Regions from separate parts of the Homo sapiens genome. Here region 2 is linked to region 1. Evidence: fine-mapped expression QTL. A gene starts in region 1. The other region holds a variant in brackets. All regions are shown on one strand. Distances are from middle to middle. Region 1 holds the start of CEL (carboxyl ester lipase). Region 2 overlaps GTF3C5 (general transcription factor IIIC subunit 5).

What was found. PIP is the estimated chance that this variant, and not a neighbour inherited with it, causes the effect. A credible set is the group of variants that fine-mapping cannot tell apart.
Region 2: its variant is the best candidate, but not a certain one, in a credible set for the expression of CEL in whole blood (INTERVAL, PIP 0.58).

The regions. Positions count from the first base shown.
Region 1 is chr9:133,057,675-133,065,674 of GRCh38, forward strand. It overlaps CEL (carboxyl ester lipase), which reads left to right and starts at 4,307. Exons shown (of 11, transcript NM_001807.6): 1 at 4,307-4,394; 2 at 6,730-6,880; 3 at 6,966-7,088; 4 at 7,366-7,563. The coding sequence starts at 4,329. GTF3C5 (general transcription factor IIIC subunit 5) reads left to right here. Exons shown (of 11, transcript NM_012087.4): 11 at 140-829. The coding sequence ends at 306. It overlaps LOC124902325, which reads right to left and starts at 3,658. Exons shown (of 2, transcript XM_047424377.1): 1 at 3,075-3,658; 2 at 407-500. The coding sequence starts at 3,658. The coding sequence ends at 407. RefSeq lists enhancers at 2,518-3,269, 3,270-4,022.
Region 2 is chr9:133,037,128-133,045,127 of GRCh38, forward strand. It overlaps GTF3C5 (general transcription factor IIIC subunit 5), which reads left to right. Exons shown (of 11, transcript NM_012087.4): 2 at 4,960-5,179; 3 at 6,601-6,799. Among named protein-coding and RNA genes, the nearest start is that of GTF3C5, 10 kb to the left of the region's middle. The variant A/G (reference allele first, on the strand shown) is at 4,516.

The DNA of each region.
Region 1 (8,000 bases):
ATACTTACCCACCAGCTTCTTAAGAGCTCGAGCTCGGACCCTTATAGTAGTAAACAGGCTCCCCAGAGCCTGGTGGCCTTTCTGGGGCCACCCGGCAGCCTGCATGGGACACCCATGGCCTTGTCTCCTCCGGCCCCAGCTCTCTTTTCCAGCTCAGCCAAGGCTGATGGCGGAAAAGAGCAGCTGACGTACGAGTCTGGGGAAGACGAGGAGGATGAGGAGGAGGAGGAAGAGGAGGAGGAGGACTTCAAGCCATCCGACGGCAGTGAAAACGAAATGGAGACAGAGATTCTGGACTACGTGTGACAGGGCCCAAGGCTGGGCCTCCCTGACCCGGCCAGACTGGTGTCTGGCCTAATGAGGGAGCCGGGGCTCCCCATTGCCACCCACAGTGCCCGGAATGGCCCTAGGAGGCCCTCTGAGGAGAGCTAGAGTCCCAGCAAAGGGTGCAGCTGACCCTAGCACTGGCTGTGACATGCTGCTTGGTGCTGCCTCTGGTCCTGAGGGGTTAGGGACATCCCCAAAGGGTATACCCTGGCTCTGCCACCCATGAACCAGCCCAGCATCCAGCCAGTGAGTGGGCACCCAATGCCTCTCAGGATGAGACCAGTAAATGCCGGAGGTGGAGCTGGGCAGCTGTGGAGCCCCAGGCCACAGGCCAGTCTCGCTTGGCTCTCATGACTGTGGTGGTGGAGATAGCGTGGGGAGCCTCGCCCATGGTCTCACGTGGCAAGAAGTGCCTTTAGCTCTGGATCCCAACCGTTTGGCACAGCTTTGGCCACAGCCAGGCCCCTCTGGAATTGTCCTTATTAAACCAGTTTCCCGAGAAGTCTTGGTTTCTTGGTGTGAATGTTGGCGCTGCAGGGGAGTCTTCTTATTGCCTTGGGGCTTGGGCCCCCTTTGTCCCTTCATATATTCCTTCATTCATTCCTTCATTCATTCAGTGACATGCTGGCAGTGCTGGCCTGTGCCCCCCTCACATGTGGTCGGGTTGGGTGAGGGCAGCTAGGAGGACTCCAGGCCTGGGGTCAGTTCTTCTCTAAATGAATACCTTCTTGACAAAGTCATGGGAAACGGGCCCTGCTGTCCTGTGGCTGCCCAGTGTGAAACTAGTGGGTCCTGAGCCCACCGAGCCTGCCTGCCTGGCCCCGCTCCCCATGTTGCCCTTGGCTGAGGCACCTCTTGTGTCTCCCCAAGTCGGCAGCAGCACTCCCTCCCAACCTGTGTGCGTGCCGAGTATTTGTTGAAGAAACAGTCAGTTGTCAGAGAATGGCCCTGTTCTGGATTGGCTGGTTGCTTCTGTGTGGTGCTGAACCTGCTCCTCTCTCCCCTGTATTTCCTGGGGACAGGTGGAGGCTCAGCCAGATTCGGGTTCAAGGTCTCTTCCTAGGCTGCGTCAGTCTGCATGCACGGGAGGTCTGCTTACTAGGATTGACCAGCAGGTTTAGGTGTTGTCAGCCTGATGTGTTGGTCTTTTATCTAACGGTTTTTGGGTTTCTGTGGTTTTTTGTTTCATTTGTGGGTCTTTTTTTTTTTTTTGAGATGGTCTTGCTTTGTCACCCAGGTTGGAGTGCAGTGATGCAATCAGGGCTCACTGCAGCCTCAACCTCCTGGGCTCGGGTGATCCTTCCACCTCAGCCTCCTGAGTAGCTGGAACTACAGGTTGTGTACCGCCATGCCCAGATAATTTTTGAATTTTTGTAGAGATGAGGTCTCACTAATGTTGTCCAGGCTGGGCTCAAGGGATCCTCCCGCCTCAGCCTTCCAAAGTACTGGGATTACAGGTGTGAGCCACTGCGTCCAGCCTATTTAATGGCTTTTGAATAGCCGTTGATAATTGCCTGGACCTACTACTTCCTTAAGGGTGCAAAATGGTGATTTTTTTGAATTATATCGTTCCCTCTGCATTTAGTAGCTGGAATCCTATAAAGGAATCTTCCTCATCGTCTGTTTGATTACCCTGAAATACTATTTTCACAGAAAAGAAGGGAAAATGCCTGTTATCACCTCTAACAGTTTTCAGAACAATGAGTTAGTGCCCTGGCAAGGGCCAGTGACAGGGCAGGAGGGGGTGGAGAGCGTGTTTCCTGGGCTGCCTGGTGAACTCTCACGTCTGTCAATTGCAGGCTTGCTTTTTCATGCCCAACTTGTCTATCTTTGCCCAGAGGCGGCCTCAGGTTGACCTCTGTAGTCCTTTGACACAAGCCTTGGGTCTTGGGCACCTTCCTTACTTACAGCTACCACGATGCTGCAGGCTCCAGCCCCTCCCTGGCATTTCCTGTTGCGGACCCGGCCCAACCATCTCCCCAGGGTGCACTCAGTCGGTGTGAATATGGTGTTTAGAGACCCCAGTCTGGTCACCAGGGGTGGGGCTTGCTCCTGGGATTTCGTTACTGCTAGGGCTTTGGAAGAGACAGAGCCAGGAAATAAGTTTTTTTTTTTTTTTTTTGCCAATTTTAAAAAAATAAAGTATGAGGCTGGGCACGGTGGCTCATGCCTGTAATCCCAGCACTTTGGGAGGCTGAGGCGGGCAGATCACTTGAGCTCAGGAGTTTGAGACCAGCCTGGCCAACATGGTGAAACCCAGTCTCTACTAAAAATACAAAAATCGGCTGGGTGTGATGGCGCACGCCTGTAATCCCAGCTACTTCAGAGGCTAAAGCAGGAGGATCCCTCGAACCCAGGAGTTCAAGACTGCAGTGAGCTATGATTGTGCCACTGCACTCTAGCCTGGGTGACAGAGACCCTGTCTCAAAAAAACAAACAAACAAAAAACCTCTGTGGACTCCGGGTGATAATGACATGTCAATGTGGATTCATCAGGTGTTAACAGCTGTACCCCCTGGTGGGGGATGTTGATAACGGGGGAGACTGGAGTGGGGCGAGGACATACGGGAAATCTCTGTAATCTTCCTCTAATTTTGCTGTGAACCTAAAGCTGCTCTAAAAATGTACATAGATATAAACTGGGGCCTTCCTTTCCCTCTGCCCTGCCCCAGCCCTCCCCCACCTCCTTCCTCTCCCTGCTGCCTCCCCTCTGCCCTCCCCTTTCCTCCTTAGCCACTGTAAATGACACTGCAGCAAAGGTCTGAGGCAAATGCCTTTGCCCTGGGGCGCCCCAGCCACCTGCAGGCCCCTTATTTCCTGTGGCCGAGCTCCTCCTCCCACCCTCCAGTCCTTTCCCCAGCCTCCCTCGCCCACTAGGCCTCCTGAATTGCTGGCACCGGCTGTGGTCGACAGACAGAGGGACAGACGTGGCTCTGCAGGTCCACTCGGTCCCTGGCACCGGCCGCAGGGGTGGCAGAACGGGAGTGTGGTTGGTGTGGGAAGCACAGGCCCCAGTGTCTCCTGGGGGACTGTTGGGTGGGAAGGCTCTGGCTGCCCTCACCCTGTTCCCATCACTGCAGAGGGCTGTGCGGTGGCTGGAGCTGCCACTGAGTGTCTCGGTGAGGGTGACCTCACACTGGCTGAGCTTAAAGGCCCCATCTGAAGACTTTGTTCGTGGTGTTCTTTCACTTCTCAGAGCCTTTCCTGGCTCCAGGATTAATACCTGTTCACAGAAAATACGAGTCGCCTCCTCCTCCACAACCTCACACGACCTTCTCCCTTCCCTCCCACTGGCCTCTTTCCCTCCCCTTCTGTCACTCTGCCTGGGCATGCCCCAGGGCCTCGGCTGGGCCCTTTGTTTCCACAGGGAAACCTACATGGTTGGGCTAGATGCCTCCGCACCCCCCCACCCACACCCCCTGAGCCTCTAGTCCTCCCTCCCAGGACACATCAGGCTGGATGGTGACACTTCCACACCCTTGAGTGGGACTGCCTTGTGCTGCTCTGGGATTCGCACCCAGCTTGGACTACCCGCTCCACGGGCCCCAGGAAAAGCTCGTACAGATAAGGTCAGCCACATGAGTGGAGGGCCTGCAGCATGCTGCCCTTTCTGTCCCAGAAGTCACGTGCTCGGTCCCCTCTGAAGCCCCTTTGGGGACCTAGGGGACAAGCAGGGCATGGAGACATGGAGACAAAGTATGCCCTTTTCTCTGACAGTGACACCAAGCCCTGTGAACAAACCAGAAGGCAGGGCACTGTGCACCCTGCCCGGCCCCACCATCCCCCTTACCACCCGCCACCTTGCCACCTGCCTCTGCTCCCAGGTAAGTGGTAACCTGCACAGGTGCACTGTGGGTTTGGGGAAAACTGGATCTCCCTGCACCTGAGGGGGTAGAGGGGAGGGAGTGCCTGAGAGCTCATGAACAAGCATGTGACCTTGGATCCAGCTCCATAAATACCCGAGGCCCAGGGGGAGGGCCACCCAGAGGCTGATGCTCACCATGGGGCGCCTGCAACTGGTTGTGTTGGGCCTCACCTGCTGCTGGGCAGTGGCGAGTGCCGCGAAGGTAAGAGCCCAGCAGAGGGGCAGGTCCTGCTGCTCTCTCGCTCAATCAGATCTGGAAACTTCGGGCCAGGCTGAGAAAGAGCCCAGCACAGCCCCGCAGCAGATCCCGGGCACTCACGCTCATTTCTATGGGGACAGGTGCCAGGTAGAACACAGGATGCCCAATTCCATTTGAATTTCAGATAAACTGCCAAGAACTGCTGTGTAAGTATGTCCCATGCAATATTTGAAACAAATTTCTATGGGCCGGGCGCAGTGGCTCACACCTGCAATCCCACCAGTTTGGGAGGCCGAGGTGGGTGGATCACTTGAGGTCAGGAGTTGGAGACCAGCCTGGCCAACATGGTGAAACCCCGTCTCTACTAAAAATACAAATATTAATCGGGCGTGGTGGTGGGTGCCTGTAATCCCAGCTACTCGGGAGGCTGAGGCAGGAGAACCGCTTGAAGCTGGGAGGTGGAGATTGCGGTGAGCTGAGATCACGCTACTGCACTCCAGCCTGGGTGACAGGGCGAGACTCTGTCTCAAAAAATAGAAAAAGAAAAAAATGAAACATACTAAAAAACAATTCACTGTTTACCTGAAATTCAAATGTAACTGGGCCTCTTGAATTTACATTTGCTAATCCTGGTGATTCCACCTCTCTGTTGTTCCCATTTTACAGAAGGGGAAACGGGCCCAGGGGCAGGGAGTGTGGAGAGCAGGCAGACGGGTGGAGAGAAGCAGGCAGGCAGTTTGCCCAGCATGGCACAGCTGCTGCCTCCTATTCCTGTGCAGGAAGCTGAAAGCCGAGCTACTCCACACCCGGGTCCGGGTCCCTCCAGAAAGAGAGCCGGCAGGCAGGAGCTCTCTCGAGGCATCCATAAATTCTACCCTCTCTGCCTGTGAAGGAGAAGCCACAGAAACCCCAAGCCCCACAGGAAGCCGGTGTCGGTGCCCGGCCCAGTCCCTGCCCCCAGCAGGAGTCACACAGGGGACCCCAGATCCCAACCACGCTGTTCTGCCGCCTGCGGTGTCTCAGGCCCTGGGGACTCCTGTCTCCACCTCTGCTGCCTGCTCTCCACACTCCCTGGCCCTGGGACCGGGAGGTTTGGGCAGTGGTCCTGGGCTCCTGACTCAAAGGAGAGGTCACCTTCTTCTTGGGCGAGCTCTTCTTGGGGTGCTGAGAGGCCTTCGGCAGGTCATCACGACCCCTCCCCATTTCCCCACCCTGAGGCCCTCTGGCCAGTCTCAATTGCACAGGGATCACGCCACTGGCACAAGGAGACACAGATGCCTCGCAGGGGATGCCCACGATGCCTGCATGTGTTGCTTCTGGTTCCTTTCCTCCAGTTCCAACCGCCGCACTCTCCCACACCAGTGTGACAGGGGGCCCATCACCCTAGACTTCAGAGGGCTGCTGGGACCCTGGCTGGGCCTGGGGGTGTAGGGCCACCCTGCCCTTCCCCACCTGGAACCTGGCACAGGTGACAGCCAGCAAGCAATGACCTGGTCCCACCATGCACCACGGGAAGAGGGAGCTGCTGCCCAAGATGGACAGGAGGTGGCACTGGGGCAGACAGCTGCTTCTCAACAGGGTGACTTCAAGCCCAAAAGCTGCCCAGCCTCAGTTCCGTCAGGGACAGAGGGTGGATGAGCACCAACCTCCAGGCCCCTCGTGGGGGTGGACAGCTTGGTGCACAGAGGCCATTTTCATGGCACAGGGAAGCGTGGCGGGGGTGGGAGGTGTGGTCCCTAGGGGGTTCTTTACCAGCAGGGGGCTCAGGAACTGTGGGGACTTGGGCATGGGGCCATCGACTTTGTGCCCAGCCAGCTAGGCCCTGTGCAGGGAGATGGGAGGAGGGAAAAGCAGGCCCCACCCCTCAGAAAGGAGGAAGGTTGGTGTGAAACATCCCGGGTACACTGAGCATTGGGTACACTCCTCCCGGGAGCTGGACAGGCCTCCCATGTGATGGCAAACAGGCCGACAGGAGACACGGCTGTTGCTCGTCTTCCACATGGGGAAACTGAGGATCGGAGTCAAAGCTGGGCGGCCATAGCCAGAACCCAAACCTCCATCCCACCTCTTGGCCGGCTTCCCTAGTGGGAACACTGGTTGAACCAGTTTCCTCTAAGATTCTGGGAGCAGGACACCCCCAGGGATAAGGAGAGGAACAGGAATCCTAAAGCCCTGAGCATTGCAGGGCAGGGGGTGCTGCCTGGGTCTCCTGTGCAGAGCTGTCCTGCTTTGAAGCTGTCTTTGCCTCTGGGCACGCGGAGTCGGCTTGCCTTGCCCCCTCCGGATTCAGGCCGATGGGGCTTGAGCCCCCCTGACCCTGCCCGTGTCTCCCTCGCAGCTGGGCGCCGTGTACACAGAAGGTGGGTTCGTGGAAGGCGTCAATAAGAAGCTCGGCCTCCTGGGTGACTCTGTGGACATCTTCAAGGGCATCCCCTTCGCAGCTCCCACCAAGGCCCTGGAAAATCCTCAGCCACATCCTGGCTGGCAAGGTGGGAGTGGGTGGTGCCGGACTGGCCCTGCGGCGGGGCGGGTGAGGGCGGCTGCCTTCCTCATGCCAACTCCTGCCACCTGCAGGGACCCTGAAGGCCAAGAACTTCAAGAAGAGATGCCTGCAGGCCACCATCACCCAGGACAGCACCTACGGGGATGAAGACTGCCTGTACCTCAACATTTGGGTGCCCCAGGGCAGGAAGCAAGGTCTGCCTCCCCTCTACTCCCCAAGGGACCCTCCCATGCAGCCACTGCCCCGGGTCTACTCCTGGCTTGAGTCTGGGGGCTGCAAAGCTGAACTTCCATGAAATCCCACAGAGGCGGGGAGGGGAGCGCCCACTGCCGTTGCCCAGCCTGGGGCAGGGCAGCGCCTTGGAGCACCTCCCTGTCTTGGCCCCAGGCACCTGCTGCACAGGGACAGGGGACCGGCTGGAGACAGGGCCAGGCGGGGCGTCTGGGGTCACCAGCCGCTCCCCCATCTCAGTCTCCCGGGACCTGCCCGTTATGATCTGGATCTATGGAGGCGCCTTCCTCATGGGGTCCGGCCATGGGGCCAACTTCCTCAACAACTACCTGTATGACGGCGAGGAGATCGCCACACGCGGAAACGTCATCGTGGTCACCTTCAACTACCGTGTCGGCCCCCTTGGGTTCCTCAGCACTGGGGACGCCAATCTGCCAGGTGCGTGGGTGCCTTCGGCCCTGAGGTGGGGCGACCAGCATGCTGAGCCCAGCAGGGAGATTTTCCTCAGCACCCCTCACCCCAAACAACCAGTGGCGGTTCACAGAAAGACCCGGAAGCTGGAGTAGAATCATGAGATGCAGGAGGCCCTTGGTAGCTGTAGTAAAATAAAAGATGCTGCAGAGGCCGGGAGAGATGGCTCACGCCTGTAATCCCAGCACTTTAGGAGGCCCACACAGGTGGGTCACTTGAGCGCAGAAGTTCAAGACCAGCCTGAAAATCACTGGGAGACCCCCATCTCTACACAAAAATTAAAAATTAGCTGGGGACTGGGCGCGGCGGCTCACCCCTGTAATCCCAGCACGTTGGGAGCCCAAGGTGGGTAGATCACCTGAGGTCAGGAGTTTGAGACCAGCCTGACTAAAATGGAGAAACCT
Region 2 (8,000 bases), 21 kb before region 1:
TGCTTCCGTCCGGAATGGGGATCTTTCCATTCGCAAGCAAAAATGTCTCGGCTGTCCTCAGACAAGGGGCATGCCCAAAAAGCATCTTAAATATATTACTGTAAACCACTGATGGTCGTATGGAATTTTGCTGAGGAGGGTGTAAGGATTAGGGACAACAGGGTGAGTAGTCTGGAATATCTGGCTGATGGCCCAGAGGCCTTGCACTAGTCAGTATGACCCATCTGACTTTCTTACAGGCAGTATTGGGATAAGGGGACACACCGGGTTCAAGGAGCCCGTCCCTAATGAGACTCTCAATGATAGGTTTTAGGCCTATTCTGCCTTCTAAGGGGATGGGATATTGCTTCCTTCTTACTATTTCCCCCCGGGGTTTTTAACTTTATATGTATGGTGGGGGGGTGGGACTTGGAGTCTTCCCCAATTCCCTTCCCTTGACCAGAGATCGGGATGAATGTATTTTTCTTCATGGTGGTAAGTAGGTTTAATGAGGTGAGGAATCCTTCTGGGCTAACATGTAAACCTATACCTAACTTTAAGTCTCTTCCTAACGGGTTAGTTCCTGCTTCAGGGATTAGCAGAAATTTAACGTGGGCTGTTCGATTTTTATGTTTGAACTCTGCGTCTTCTAAGATTTTTGCTCTAAATCCTTCTCCCTTTACCCCTGAAACAAAAAGCTCTTCTGAGGAGCAGCTGACGCTAGACGGAAGGGAACAAACAGAAGAGCGAGCAGCACCCTTCTGCAGAAGTAAACTTAGCACATTTAGTTCTGCAGAAGAAAGGTGCTGTGCTGCTCGCTCTTCTGGCCACCAGAGCACACGGAACAAAGGAGGAAAGGTTCCTGTGTCTTGTCCCACTGGCTGGAGTTGGACCGCACAATCTAAGCTGATCTCGATTGGCTATTTCAAATAGAACAGGGATGTGGGTTACAGTGGCTGGATGAGCGGTTTCGCCAGGAAGAATAGTTTCGGCGGGAAGGGCAGTTACAGAGCGGGTAACTAAGGGCAAGGAGGCGCAAAGAACAAGGAAGTTAGACTTTGAAGATGGAGAACAAAGAAGAAGGGAGTTGAACAAGCTGAACCTTTGAGGAGGAACTCACTCAACCTGGATATCTAATATCCGGGACACTGAGAGAGGGACGGAGTTGCTGGACGGCGGCTGAAGGGGAGAGTCTACCCGGGCGTGTGGTTTCCTTGGCAACGGAGAGTGTGGTGGACTCTGGGTGCCCAATGGGCAGGGCTTTGGTATCTGTAATTGCCAGGAACAGCCTTTTTCTCCCCAGGGGACAGAGGGGAAGGGACTGTGGGGGAGACCCCTAGGAGCTTTTTTTTTTTTTTTTTTGAGACGGAGTCTGGCTCCGTCGCCCAGGCTGGAGTGCAGTGGCGCGATCTCGGCTCACTGTAACCTCCGCCTCCCGGGTTCAAGCAGTTCTCCTGCCTCAGCCTCCTGAGTAGCTGGGATTATAGACACCCACCACCACGCCCGGCTAATTTTTGTTTTTTTTTTTTTAGTAGAGTTGGGGTTTCACCATGTTGGCCAGGCTGGTCTCGAACTCCTGACCTCAGGTGATCCACCCAGCTCGGCCTCCCAAAGTGCTGGGATTACAGGTGTGAGCCACTGCGCCCGGCTCCTAGGGGCTTTTTTTTCATTCCATCCACAAATGTGAGCCACAGCCTGGGCACTGGTGCCAGGAATGCAACTCTGCAGCCCCACAGGGTGTGTTGCACTGCCGTATCCTCATTACCCGGGGTAGAAAACTGAGGCACGGGGAGATGAAGCTCTGTTGACTTACCTGAGAGGGATAGACTGTTATGTTGTTAGGATTAGAGGTAGTGATGGTTGACATCTTATTCTCTGCCACGTACGGCTCTAGGTGCCTTACTTAGAGTCCGTCCTCTTTAGAACCCTACCAGGTAGGAACTGTCAGAGTCTGTATTTTACGGGGGAAGGAACTTGTTCGAGGTCACACAGCAAGTGGGGCAGCTGGAGGATGCTATGTGTAAGTTCTTTACATGTACCAGAACTTGAAGTGTCTCTTTAGAGAAGTTTTCCCTGATTGCCCTAACTAAAGTGGCCACTGGCAATTATCTGCCTCCTCATCCTGTTAATTCCAATCTGAAAATGTTTTAAAATGTTTATTCTGACAAAGGCTTATACATATAAAACATTTAAGAAAAAAGGAAAAAAAAATTTACTGTCTCTCGTCCTCTTGACCCTAAGACTGTCAACTCCATGAGAGTGGGGACTTCTTTTGTTCACTTCTGTACTTCTTTATTTTTATTTTTTTATTTTTTGAGACAGGGTTTCATTCTGTCACCAAGGCTGGAGTGCAGTAGAGCAATTATGGCTCACTGCAACCTCAACCTCCTAGGCTCGGGTGATCTTCTCACCTCACCCTGCCAGGTAGCTGGGACTATAGGCATGCACCACCACGCCCAGCTAGTTTTTGGTATTTTTTGTAGAGACGTGGTCTCCCTAAGTTGTCCAGGATGGTCTCGAACTCCTGGGCTCAAGCGATCCGCCTGCCTTGGCTTCCCAAAGGGCTGGAATACATGCATATGAATCTGCCGGGATCTTGCTAAATGAGCCACCATGCCTGGCCCAGTTCTCTGTTCCTAACATCCATAACAGTGCCTAGTTCTGTAAATACTTGTCAAATGCACGATTGAGTCTTCACAGCAATCTAGTGAGTTAGATGCCATTTTTATTCACATTTTTCAGATAAAGACACAAGAAAGTTTAGGTCAGACATCTACATGGTACAAGGGGATTTGAACTCATGCTTTGCTCTAGAGTCTGAACTTTTACCTGCTGCTTCCTCATCCTTTATGAATATGGAAAAGCCCTGAATTCATTAAGCACGGGCTGCCAGTAGAGCCCCAGTTAATCACGTTTTCTTCTTTTATATTATTCTCTTGATTTATGGCTTTGACAGAATCCTTACTCTCGCTAACCTCAGGGATTATTACAGTGTGAGCACTTTGGGAAGGGACCTTCCTTACTCATTCACTCTTCTCATGTTTCTTGAGCACCTCCCCTGTGCCAGGCCTACGTTTGGGTTCATTCCCGCCCCATCGGGACTCAGAGGTGTGTGTTTTATGAGGAGGAGATTCCTGAGAACCAAGTCTTCTTCATTCTCTCCCGAGATAGTTCCTGATCACTTCCTAAGGGACAGACCCTGTCCTGGGTGTTGGGAACCAGCTCACTAGCACGTAGGTGACCTTGTCCCAGTTCACGTTGTTGGTGCTTTCATATGCACACATCCAGTGCTCGTTGTGACCCAGCATTGGGCAAGTATTCATTCATATGTACGTGGCACATATTGAATGTCTACCATGAGTTAGGCACCAGGAGCTGTGCTTTATAGATATTTAATCATAACAGTCGTATGACATAGATGCTATTCTTGGGGTTTTTAAGGAGAGGGACCAAAAAGAGTGTTGGTATTCAGTTTCATGTGCTTGGAAAGCTAGAGGTAACAGCAAGTCAGAGCCCAAATGGTTGTTACTGATTGATTTAATCTCATTTGGACCTCGAAACATTTGCATATGAGACTAAATACCAAGACCCTTTATGGTGGGTAGTTGTTAGAGTAGGTAACCCTAGACAAGCCACTCCACCCCGCACCAAGCCTGAGTTACCTCCAAGATTGTGGGTGGCAAGCCACCCAGGTGCTGAGGCAAGAGACCGAGGGCATGAGCTGTTCCAGTATAATAAAATACATAAAACAACAAGTTATACTAGATCTAGATCATAGACATGATTATATATGAATATCATTAATCATTAGTTTGTAGGAATTACTCTTTATTCCAATATTATAATAATCCTCGCTCTATAATCATAACCTAAGAAAAACCAGGTCATACAGAGATAGGAGCTGAGGGGACATGGTGAGAAGTGACCAGAAGACAAGAGTGCGAGCCTTCTGTTATGCCCAGACTGGGCCACCAGAGGGCTCCTTGGTCTAGCAGTAACGCCAGTGTCTGGGAAGACGCCTCTTGCCAAGCGGACCATGGTCTAGCGGTAGCATCAGTGTCAAGGAAAAACACCCGCTACTTAGCAGACCTGCAAAGGGAGTCTCCCTTTCCCTGGGGGAGTTTGGAGAAGACTCTACTCCTCCACCTCTTGTGGAGGGCCTGACATCAGTCAGACCTGCCCGCAGTTATCCGGGGGACTGTCTCCCTGTGATGCTGTGCTTCAGTGGTCACGCTCCTAGTCCACCTTCATGTTCCGTCCTGTACGCCTGGCTCTGCCTTTTAGATAGCAGTAGTAAATTAGTGAAAGTACTAAAAGTCTCTGATATGCAGAAGTAATGGCATAAGCTGTCTCTCTCTCTCCCTCTCTGTCTGCCTCGGCTGCCAGGCAGGTAAGGGCCCCCTGTCCAGTGGACACATAACCCACGTGACCTTACCTATCATTGGAGATGACTCACACTCTTTACCCTGCCCCTTTTGCTTTGTATCCAGTAAATAACAGTGCAGCCAGACATTTGGGGCCACTACCGGTCCCCGC[A/G]TTTTGGTGGTAGTGGTCCCCCGGGCCCAGCTGTCTTTTCTTTTATGTCTTTGTCTTGTGTCTTTATTTCTGCAGTCTCGTCTCCACACACAGGGAGAAAAACCCACCGACCCTGTGGGGCTGGTCCCTACAAAGATAAGGGTGATAGTATCTCCCCTCAAGTGTTGCCAGAAGGACCAACTAATGCCCCACACCGAGCAGGCACTTGATGGATGATGGCATTTACTTAGAAGGAAGGAGACGATTCTCATTTTTTCCACCAGATAAAAACTAAGATACATGGGTTTAAAAAATGGGCCTTTTGGGAATTAAGGGCCCAGAATGAAACATGAGCCTCCTGGCCTTTCCTGGATCACCGTCAGGCTTTTATTGAGAGAGGAGCAGCTCCCCACTGGCTGCTTGGCTTGTCATTGCTTCACTCTGTCTCCTTTGGCCTTGCCACAGATCTACGCAGACCCCACCAAGAGGCTGGAGCTGTACTTCCGGCCCAAGGACCCATACTGCCACCCAGTGTGCGCCAACCGCTTCAGTACCAGCAGCCTGCTGCTCCGCATCAGGAAGAGAACGAGGCGGCAGAAAGGGGTGCTGGGCACTGAGGCCCACTCCGAGGTCACATTTGACATGGAGATCCTTGGCATCATCTCCACCATTTACAAATTTCAGGGTAACTGAAATCTGCTCTTGCAATGTCTGGTTATTTCAGGGCTGGCCATCCTAGCTGCCTGCAGGAGCTGTGTGGGTCATCTGCACCAGTGGAGGGGGCCAGGATATGCCCAGGGGCTGTGGGGACACAGCAGGGCACAGGCCCCATCCAGGAGGCAGCCTTTCTTCCCTCCAGCCAACAGTTCCCCAGAGACTGCAGGTTCATTGCTGCCCAATCTTCAGCATTCTTAAGCTAGAAATCTCCTAATTTTTAATGAAACCATTGTGTGGGACCAAATAAAACTGGTCAGTAGACCTCCAGTCTTTCCCCCACCACAGTGTTTTGAACCTTCTCTTGTCTCGGCTGCTGTTGGTCTTGCCCTCCTAGCTCCCGAAGCCCCTTGGGACCTCCTCCTCCTCTGAACTCTCAGCAGGTTGAACGTCCCTCGTGGAGCCCTCAATCAGGTTTCCCACCTACCAGGAACCCCAGTGAGGAAGCAATAAAGCAAGGGAGGGAGACGGGTGAGAAAGACAGACTCTGGCATTGTGCCTGCCTGAGCCCTGCCAGTTTCTTTGGGAGGTGGCTTGGCTTCCCTGAGCCTCAGTGTCCTTGTCTGTGCAGTGCGGGCTACAGAGCCTGCGTTCCTTAGGCCCTCGTGAAGATTCCGGGAGGCAATGCTTGTGAATGGGCCAGCCTCTGGCCCACAGGAGGTGCCTGGCATATTACTAACAAGGCTTAGAGATGGCTAAGTTACATCTGCAGTTCTAGGCAGAATCTGAAGAGTATAAAGATTGAGAAGGGCAAAGAGGACTAGAAAGAAAAGAGGGGAAGAAGAAAGTGAAATGAAGGAGAAGCAGGACCTGGGGTCCCATGGGTTGGGCATTTTTAATGGCAGTCATTCTGGTGGGTCATGGCATTCACCAAAGAGGGCTGTTCTTTTGGGACAAGGTTTCCCAAGTGATTCATAAAACATAACACCTCATATTTTTCATCGAATTGAACCAGCATCTTGCTGCTCTGTGTGTGTCTCTGGACTGGCAGCATCAGCCTCACCTGGGAGCTTGGTAGAAATGCACCAGGTCAGAACCTGCATTTAGCAAGATCCCAGCAGATTCATATGCATGTTACTAGGTTGGTGCAAAGGTAATTGCAGGTTTTACAGTTAAAAGTAACATTCATCTAAGAAGCACTGACCTGGACTCCATCCTCACCTATCATGTAGCTCCCCACCTCCCCAAAATAATTTTCATGTAAGTGACTTAGACTGCATGGAGCCAACTTTGCAGAGGCATTTGGGAAGGGTGTGTTTTCCTGCCACCCTCACCCTGCAGCCTCCACCACATGGCCCACTCAGCACCTCCCTAAGCAGATGTGGGTGTCGGTGTGTGGCAGCTGCCCATTCCTGGACTCAATGTCTGCCATCTGCCCACCTCTCTTTCTAGGGATGTCTGACTTCCAGTACTTGGCTGTGCATACGGAAGCAGGCGGCAAGCATACGTCAATGTATGACAAGGTGCTCATGCTCCGGCCCGAGAAGGAGGCCTTTTTCCACCAGGAGCTGCCGCTCTACATCCCCCCACCCATCTTCTCCCGGCTGGACGCCCCGGTGGACTACTTCTACCGACCAGAGACCCAGCACCGGTAAGGCCCCCCTCCATGCAGCCTCGGTTCTCTATCCTGAAAATGGGATGGTCCGGGCACGGAGGCTCACACACTGGGCGTGGTGGTGCACACCTGTAATTCCAGCTACTCGGGAGGCTGAGGCTGGAGAATCACTTGAACCCAGGAGGCGGAGGTTGCAGTGAGCCAAGATCGCGTCACTGCACTCCAGCCCGGGTGACAGAGTGAGACTTTGTCTCCCAAAAAAAAAAAAAAAAAAAAAAAGAAAATGGGATGACAGTAGTACTACCCAACAGACGTATTGGGATTGAATTTAAAAAGTGTGTGCAGTTCTCAGCACAGGGCTGAGTACAGAACAGGGCCTTAGTAAGCGGTGGCCTGTGTGATCGCCAGGTTGGCCTCAGTCCTGAGGACAGTGCAAAGAACGTGACTGTGGGACATGTGGGTTCCTGCTGAGAAATGTCCTTTGGCTTAATCCCCTGGTCATTGCTGACCAGCCAGTCTCTGGACCTTGCTGTCACTAGTAATGACACTACCTAAGCAAGCCTCGTGGGAATGTCCCACTCTCTGACCCCAGCTCTTTCCTACTTCCTTTGCTCCCCATGGCCTCACCGTCCCTGTCCGTGGCGGAGATTTTGCAGCCTCTTTATCATCTGTCCCTGCCCTGCCCTCCTCTCTTTGCCACACTCACCTGCCAAGCCTTGGTCCTACTTCACCCCAGCTGTTTACCCTTTCCTGGTCTGCCCTGTGCGGCTGGAGGTCGCTTCAGAGAACCCCTGACCCTGCCCATCGCCCAGTGCCATCCTTCTCAAGGCATCTGTGACTCTACACAGCTCTCGCCTGCTCTGTACTTGGTTATGGACTGCGTCCCCTCCAGAACACGGTGCCTCTCCTGAGGACAGGCGCTCACTCTCTCTCATCAGTAGTGGGTTTCTCCTACACCGAGAGCTATGAAAAGCCACATGGACGTGACTCATAGTGCACCCACCGCCACCCCCTGCCACCCACACACAGGCTCCGTGCACAGCCTGCCCAAGCCCACATGCAATTCAGATGAAATGAATTCTGTAACTCAGAGGTTCTTGACATAATTAGAGACCTCAGCGGCTGTTGGAAAGGCAGGCCTGGGCATTGTCAAATGTAGTCAAATTGTCAAATGCCATACATTGACATAAAAGAATAGGATTTCCTTTATATAAAATCCAAGATTGAATACTGTGAA